Regions from separate parts of the Homo sapiens genome. Here region 1 is linked to region 2. The links come from fine-mapping of genetic effects on gene expression. A gene starts in region 2. The other region holds a variant in brackets. All regions are shown on one strand. Distances are between the middles of the regions.

Region 1 (4,000 bases), 51 kb after region 2:
TTCTTGAGCTCAGGAGTTTGAGACCAGCCTGGGCAACATGGTGAAACCCATCTCTACTAAAAATTCAAAAATTAGCTGGGCATAGAGGCGGGCGCCTGTAGTCCCAGCTACTTGGGAGGCCGATTGCTGGAGCCCCGGAAGTTGAGGCTGCAGTGAGTCGGAATGGCACCACAGCACTCCAGCCTGGGTGACATGGTGAGACCCTATCTCAGGAAAAAAAAGAAAAAGAAAACACCACCAGAAAAAGAAACGTGGAGTCTGTGATACATGTTTTGGATGGTTGTCATCACTGGAACAGTTGTAAAGAAGTAACCTGTACTGAGATGCTTAGAATTAGTCAGACATCAAGCCAGAACCCTCTTCCAGCCCTGCTATAAAGGAATGTAAGACAAAAATGATATCACAGGGCTGTGTCCATATAGTTACAAGGTCCGGTTGAGTGGGACAGATAAGTAAGGGCTGGAGTTGATGACAGGGAGAAATTCTGGGGGCTTGCCACGGCCCGGTGATGCCCGACTATAAAGAATGGATGGGATTGGGTGGGAGAAGGCATTCCCATGAGGGAGAGTGGGAGGTCGCAGACCCTGCAGGGTAGGAATTTACCAGGAAAAAGATTCAAAGCATTACAGCAGAGCCTGCGAGTGGGCAGATCGTAGCTGCTGCCTTTGGAAAGATTAAAATGTGCTAGCTTTGCCTGGCTGTGGTTGGGGAATTTATTACATAGGCAACCAGTAATTGTAGATATGGAGGCGGAGTGCTGACAAGATACAAGCCCATAATGGAATATTCTTGTTTGGGACAGACTGTAGCCAATAGGTTACAGGTCTCTTAGTTGAGGTGAGATGTTGTAAGCATTGACTTTAAGGTGATGGCAGCAGGACCAGAAAGAGAATGGTAACTTCTGTGTGTGTGCATGTACATCTATGTGTGGGGACAGTTTTTCTGTATCTTGAGCAAAAGAGGAAACCACTTCTCAACGAAGCGAAATTGAGACGTTTCTGAAGATATAGAACTTACATAGCTTTGTTTCCGGTTGTGCACATGTACCCTAAAACTTAAAGTATAATAATAATAAAATTAAAAAAAAAGATAAACTTTCTCTTCCTGAGAGAAATGGACCTTATCAAGAGATCTTTTCCCCTCTGACTTTACTTGGGAAAAGACTTTGGAAGTTTTGGGTGTTGCTGGGTGACAGAGGTTGAAAGCAAAGGAGAAAGAATTGGAGAATCTTGTTAAAGCTATTTTTTTCTGCTTTGATCCATTCCCATTACAGAAAAGATAGAAGAAATCTACAAGGCATTTATTAAGGAATCTGGTATCCAATTCAGTGAGCTGGAGGGACAGGTGCTTCAGTTCCATCTCAGTAACCTGGAGTACGCCTGTGGCAGCAACCTTCACCAGGTGCGCTTGGGTTTTGTGAAAGGTGTGCTTTGAAAATACTTGGTTTAGGCCGGGCGCAGTGGCTCACGCCTGTAATCCCAGCACTTTGGGAGGCCGAGGTGGGCAGATCATGAGGTCAGGAGATCGAGACCATCCTGGCCAACATGGTGAAACCCTGTCTCTACTAAAATACAAAAAATTAGCCAGGCCTGGTGGCGCATACCTGTAGTCCCAGCTACTCGGGAGGCTGAGGCAGGGGAATCGCTTGAACCTGGGAGGCGGAAGTCGTAGTGAGCTGGGATCGCGCCACTGCACTCCAGCCTGGAGTCTCAAAATAAATAAATAAATAAAATACTTGTTTTTGTGTATGTGTGTGTGTGTTTTGTGTGTCTAAATATTGAATTTGAGCTGGTTTCGATAAACAGGAAAGAATGATTCTCCTTAAAAGTTTGAAAACCATGACTTCTGAGCATATTAACCCCACAGTGGTTTTGGTTGTTTTTTAAACTTTTTTTTTTTTTTTAAGCAAGAGAAACTCTTCTTCAGATAATGCTTGTGAAAGAAGCTCAATACGTAAAAACAAAGGAAGAGGCTGGGTGCAGTGGCTCCCTTCTGTAATCCCAGCACTTTGAGAGGCCAAGACAGGCGGATTGTTTGAGCCCAGGAGTTCAAGACCATCCTGGGCAACATGGCAAAATCCTGTCTCTACAAAACATACAAAAAATTAGCTGGGCTTAGTGGCATGTGCCTGTAGTCCCAGCTAAGTGGGAGGCTGAGGTGGGAGGATTGCTTGATCCCAGGAGTTCAAAGCTGCAGTTAGCTGTGATGGTGCTACCACACTGCTGCCTGGGCGATAGAGTGAGACCCTGTCTAGGGGGAGAAAAAAGAAATCA[A/G]TCACTCCAAAGGAAGGAGGGCTATTGGGCTGAATCAGATCAGGGTCTCTTATGTTTTTCTTATTTTTTGTAGAGATGGGGTCTTGCCATGTTGCCTAGTCTGGTCTTGAACTCCTGGTCTCAAGTGATCCTCCTGCCTCGGCCTCCCAAAATGCTGGAATTACAGGCATGAGCCACTGCACCAGGACTTGTCTCTTTACCGTCCTTTCCCTGCCCTCTGCAGAGGGCCTTGGGTCATTTCTGTGGAACCGTGGAGTCGGAAACACTGCTCTCGAGAAGCCAAAATAGAGTATCCTTGCAAGTCTGGTCTGTTTACCTTGTTAAAGTAAATTTAAGCTTGCCTAACTCATTTAACCAACTGTGAACTTAATACCCCAGTATTCTGTATTTTGAATAGAACTCCACGGATGATTTCAGAGGCCCCTTTGGGACCTCTCCATTTCCACTTGGTTCTGCATTGTGATTGGAGTCATGCTATTTTCCAAAATCGTGCAGGGTTTCTATTCTGTAGAGCTTCCATGTTGAGGACAGATAGCATATTTATATATGTTGATCAAATACAGTTTTACCCTCATAGAATTCTACTTTGCCAGAGTTGTCAATATAGAAAATCAGCTTCTATTTTTATCAAGGAGTGGTACCCATGTCCAAGTCATATGGACCTTTTGTTCTCAAATAAACTTTCCTCAAATAAAATTATCGAGATTTCCTCCCCCAGTGGTGGTCTCTGCCTAGGCTGGTCTGCCTGTCCCCTGCCCTCCTGCCTTGGTGGCTGTTCCCACCTGGAGCTCCTCATATTGGCTCTCAGGCACAGGCACAAGGATTTACACTGCTGTGTCCCCAACCTCTCTTGTTTCCCAGGTATCTGCTCGCTCGTGGGACCACAATGAATTCTTTGCCCAGTTTGCTGGTGACCACACTCTGCTAACTCCCGGGTACTCGGTGATAATTGAAAAACTGGCAGAAGGGCTTGACATTCAACTCAAATCTCCAGTGAGTATCAACTGCTGGGAGGCTCTGGCTCGCCTTGTTTGGGGAGGATGTGAAGTTCTGGGCATGCGGCTCACGCAGGAGAATGGGGCTGGCTTTGGTGTTTAGCCAGGGTCTAGAAGTACTTTTGTGGCTCATTCGTAGCCTGTGTAGCATTATCCATGTCAGTGAGGCAGCTGCTGCTGCTTGGAAACCGTAGTGGCCCCAGTGCATTTCTATTAAGAAGAAGGTATTCAAATTGCTTCGCAACTTTCCTAACCCAGTGCAGTTATTTTCACTTTAAAATTTTCCCTTCAAATCTTTGTCTCAGTGCATTTGTATTGTGTGTTATTGTAATCATGGGGGTGATTACTTAACTGTATTTCCCTTCACACCATATTATAACTATCTTCTATATTCCGACACAATGTTTATTTTGTATATTCTGACAGAGTATAAATTCTAACTCCCTCAGTTCAGCTATAACAATTGTTTAGATCTCTGAATGCCAGGAAAAGATTCCCCTTAGCCTTGGAGATGTAAATTCATGTAATATGAGAATCGGAAAGGATCCTGGATCACGTGGTTCCATCCCTCACTTTTTTTCATAATTGCTTTTTGAGCAGGTGCAGTGTATTGATTATTCTGGAGATGAAGTGCAGGTTACCACTACAGATGGCACAGGGTATTCTGCACAAAAGGTAAGAGCTAGGGCAGTACAAGGGTGGGTAGAAACCTTTGCTGCCAGGGGCTTGGAG
Region 2 (4,526 bases):
TGTGCCTGATAAGAGATCACAGACCACAGAATGGTTCTGGCCAGTCTACTGAGAATGCACAGTAAGGGTTTTTCTGTCCTCTGCTTCACCTTTTGATATAAGAGGGCCAAAAACTCCATCCTGTGATTGTGGTAACACCGCCATTTTTTGTGCATGGTACCCATGAAGCTCAATTACTCATGGGTACTTTCCTCCTTTCATAAATATTCATGAGTCATCCTACAGCTTACTGAATATGTATATTTGGCCACCTTCCTCAGCATAAATTCCTGTTCCCTTTGCCCCTCCCTGGAAGTGTCAGTTTCTGGCTTCTGGCCTGCGGCTACACTTCTCAGCCAGTCAGAATGGCTGCTCTACAGTCTGAAACCATTCATGAGAAAGAGTTCTCCTTTCTAAATTATGAACTTCTCATTCTTCAGCTGACAGACCATAACTGCAGATCCATCTGAATGTATGAGGAAAATGCCTTTCCTTTCAATGTCAACTCTGCAATATTAAGGACAATATAACACCATTATTCTAACATTCCCTTTAAATCATTAGTGAAACTAGTTTGGATTATACTAGCATGCTATTATTGGTGGTTCTAATTTAATGATTAATCTGTGAAATAGCAAACATTGCATAAAAGCATGTATTTCAGGCAAATTTCCCCTTTTGTTGCCAAATTTGGCCTCAGTATGCTTAGGATATAGGGAGGAGGCATTTCTCTCATTACCTGGGAACATGAATTCACTTCTTAGCAAATATTTGTTGACAAATGGCTTCTGCAAGACCCTGATGGTATCAGGAGGTGACTCTGAGTTTTCTGAGAGGTCAGTAGAAAGTATCTGATTTATATTGGGTACAGAAAAGCAAAAGAATGTTGCAGTTTTCTCATTTTCATTCAGAAACTCTGGAACCTAAATTCAAGGCTTCATAAAGCAGTTCTCTACTTAAAAGAGAAGCATAATCTTTATCAGAGTTCCACAGCAGCCTGGAGTAGCACAACTCTATTCCTTTCACACAAACTTGAACTGTCTAACAAAATCATGCACATAACTTAATCATGTCTTAGTTGTTTGTTTTTGAGACAGGGTCTCTCTCTATCCCCCAGGCTGGAGTGCAGTGGTGTAATGACACTTCCGTCTCCAACACTGGGGCTCAAGCGATCCTCTCACTTCAACCTCCTGAGTACCTGGGACTATAAGGGTGCACCACCATGCCTGGCTAATTTTTAAATATTTTGTAGAGACAGGGTCTTGCTATGTTACCCAGGCTGGTCTCAAACTCCTGGGCTCAACGTCTTAGCTGTTCTAACAGTTTCTCAGCATGGACTCCACTTGTATACATCATTTCTAGAGAAATAAAGTTTATTTCTATAATACAAAAAAAGTGCACATTACAAGAATTAAGGAAGGGAAATTTCACAAAAATTTCTGCCCACAAACAAAGTCCTCAAGTTGTTCTAGTCTCCATTCTCACCTTTTCAAAAGCTTCTGCTATAGTTTTGTTTTTAAATTTCATAAAATTGAGAAGAAACTTTCCTAAGGTGCACACATCTTAAAAGAGTATGACTCGGTGAATTTTTTACATATACATACACCTGTGTAACCACCGCAGAGCAAGACAGAATATTTACAGCACCCCAGTTTCCCACATCACCAGGGATCACTCACTATTTGGCAGTACTTATTTTTTCCCAAAAATCACTAATACACCAGGCTGGGGAAAAAACCGAGAGTCCGTTTCTATAAAAAAAAATTTGAAAAATTAGCCAAGCGTGGTGCAGCGAGCCTGTAGTCCCAGTTACCGAGGAGGCTGGGGCGGGAAGATCACTTGAGCCCAGGAGTTCCAGGTTACAGTGAGCTATGATTGTGCCACTGCACGCTAGCATGGGCGACAGAGGGAGACCCTGTCTCTAAAAGAAAAAAGAAAAAAAAATAATTAAAACACACCAGTGCTTTGGAAGCACTTTAAATCCTGGACATTGGATTCAGGTCATTTACTGTCCGACCTCGTTATTCCCAGTTTCCGCTTCTGCCCTGAACCCCACTTCACAGGGCTGATTGCTAGGCTGTCTACGCTTGTAAGAATTCCTGGGAGCCCTAGCACGGGCGCATACACTCCTAGCAAATCGTTCCCTTTCTCACCCGCACCCTCCGCGCCCGAGTGAGCCTACCTCGCTTACAGCTGGTTGCCGGCCATTGCCTCCGCCACCAATGACGTCCCCAGGGGCGGGTACGCCTCCGCTTCCACCTCCGCCACTTCTCCGCGCCCCGCCTCCGCCCGCGCCCCGCCTCCGCCCGCGCCCCGCCTCCGCCCGCGCCCCGCCTCTTTCCCGCGCCCCGCCTCTTTCCCGCGCCCCGCCTCAGTTCCCGCCCCCTCTCCCGGCGCCCCGTCTCCACTCCCGCCCCGTACCTCGTTGCACAGACTCCACCCACTTCCCCAAGCGCCGGGGTTTGCGCAGCGGCGGAAATGGGCAGGGCGGAGCGAGCGCTGCGGCTAAAGCGAAGGCGGGGACCCTACCCATCCCTAGTCCTGTCGGCTCCTCCCACCCCGGGTCACGCCGTGACAGGGGCGGAAGCGGCGGCGGCGGCGGCGGCCGAGAAGAGGCTGGGGCTCGCGGCGCGGCTGCAGCCGTCCTGTGCGCGCGGCGCGCGGCTCCGGAGAGGCGCCCGCAGTCCAGGGCGGCGCGCACCGCCTCGCTGGCGCTCAGAGGTGGGAGGCTCCCCACTCCGGGGGCGTGCGTGGGGGCCGTGGCGGATTTCGGGTGACAGCGTTGCACAAAGCAGCTTGGTTGGGGTGCAAGCCCTCCCTTTCCCCCTGTGCAGCGCCCCTCGCCGTGGTGGGAGGTGGGCGGGTGCCCCAGGGACGGATACCTCCTGCCCCGGATTAAAAGAGGGTGCGGGGTGGGTATCTGTCTGAAGAAGGGGGAATTCCCGGGCTAGGGTGTTGGGGCGTGGGGTCGCCGGGTTCGTCGCGATGTTGCCGGTCGGCTAACCCCCCTACAATGTTTCCTTTCTGTACAGCGGTGCCTTTTCCCCGAGACTCCCGGCACCTCTTCAGCGCAAAGGTGAGCCCCGGGGCAGTTGCTTCTCCGACTTCGAAAAGCTTCCGAAAGCTTCTCGGAAAGCGAGGCGGCTGCAGCTGGCACCGGGAGTTTGGGGCTCCCTCCTGGGGACTGTCAGAGCCGCGGGAGAACCCCACGGTCCTGGAGTAGGAACTCCCTCGCTTGTTCTTCCCGGCCGATAGGGTGCGGCCAGGAGCCCGCACAGCCTTGCAGGTGTTGTAGTAATTCTCTGGCACAGCCACCACGCGTTGAGACTTGATGAGCATTGCCAGGTTGCTGGGGTAACTCCTCTGGGATTGGAGACCTGGAGGAGGGGTGGCCCGATTAGGGTAGCTGTTAGTCAACGGCCGGGCAGCTGACAGGTGAAAGAGGAAGGAAGAGGCCGACCCAGCTGTAGAAAGTTGGGGTTCAGTGATGTGGAAACCAGCCACATAGAAGTCCAGTCTTCCCTTGGGTAAGCCTGCAGGACTCCCCAGTCCACTCCAGTTGGGGAATCCCCCACACCACGTATACACACATAACTCAAGGCTTTGACCAGTTTTGTTTTGTGTTTTTAAATCTATTTTAGTGGCAGAAAGGCGAGTGGGAGAGAAGGCTTCTTCAGGAGGTACATGAGAAAATTACCATCAATAATTATTTGCCTTGCTGGGAGAATCAACAAAAGATATCTAGGCAATTGGGGATTTAATATTGAATCATTGAACTGCATGTTGAATATTGAATAATTCAATATTGAATTATTCAATATTGGGAGGCCGAGGTGGGCGATCACTTGAGGTCAGGAGTACTTCAAGACCAGCCTGGCCAAGGTGGTGAAACCTGGTCTCTACTAAAAATACAAAAATTAGCCGGACGTGGTGGCACACACCTGTAATCCCAGCTACTCGGGAGGCTGAGGCAGAAGAATCGCTTGAACCCAGGAGGTGGATGTTGTAGTGAGCCGAGATCGCACCACTGTACTCCAGCCTGAGCCACGGAGGAAGACTCCGTCTCAAAAAAAAGAAAAAATCTTTTTGAATAAGCTGCTTCAGAAAAACCTAGGGATTATTATAATGAAATCTACATATTGATATATCCACTTATATATTTACCAAAAAATCCCACTTTTTTATCACATTAAAAGAAAACCAAAGCCAAATTTTAAATGCTTGAATTAAAAATTAGAAATATATGTATAATGTTGAGCATGAAACCAATTGGTTATATTTAGGTGTGTTTATTAATTTGAAAAATCAAGAAGGAAGACATTTTAGTATACTAAAAATTTTTTCTTCATTTTAAGACCTAAGGACCCAGCAAGTGGAGATATATAAATTACATCAAGTGCCAAAAGTTCTGAGAATGGATTCATATAACCCTCAATTGTATAAAGTTGAAAATATGCTATCATAAAAACCCTCGATAAGATTTAATAATGGCTTTTATAGCTCATGTTTTCATTTCCTTGTTAACCATTTCTTGAATTCTTTGTTGC

Evidence for each region. PIP is the estimated chance that this variant, and not a neighbour inherited with it, causes the effect.
Region 1: its variant is the best candidate, but not a certain one, in a credible set for the expression of KDM1B in whole blood (TOPMed, PIP 0.81).

Annotation. Positions count from the first base shown.
Region 1 is chr6:18,204,264-18,208,263 of GRCh38, forward strand. KDM1B (lysine demethylase 1B) reads left to right here. Exons shown (of 22, transcript NM_001364614.2): 15 at 1,274-1,401; 16 at 3,135-3,266; 17 at 3,869-3,943. Among named protein-coding and RNA genes, the nearest start is that of KDM1B, 51 kb to the left of the region's middle. The variant A/G (reference allele first, on the strand shown) is at 2,274.
Region 2 is chr6:18,152,872-18,157,397 of GRCh38, forward strand. It overlaps KDM1B (lysine demethylase 1B), which reads left to right and starts at 2,551. Exons shown (of 22, transcript NM_001364614.2): 1 at 2,551-2,700; 2 at 3,012-3,055. It overlaps TPMT (thiopurine S-methyltransferase), which reads right to left and starts at 2,206. Exons shown (of 9, transcript NM_000367.5): 1 at 2,162-2,206. RefSeq lists a silencer at 2,252-2,811 and an enhancer at 3,252-3,491.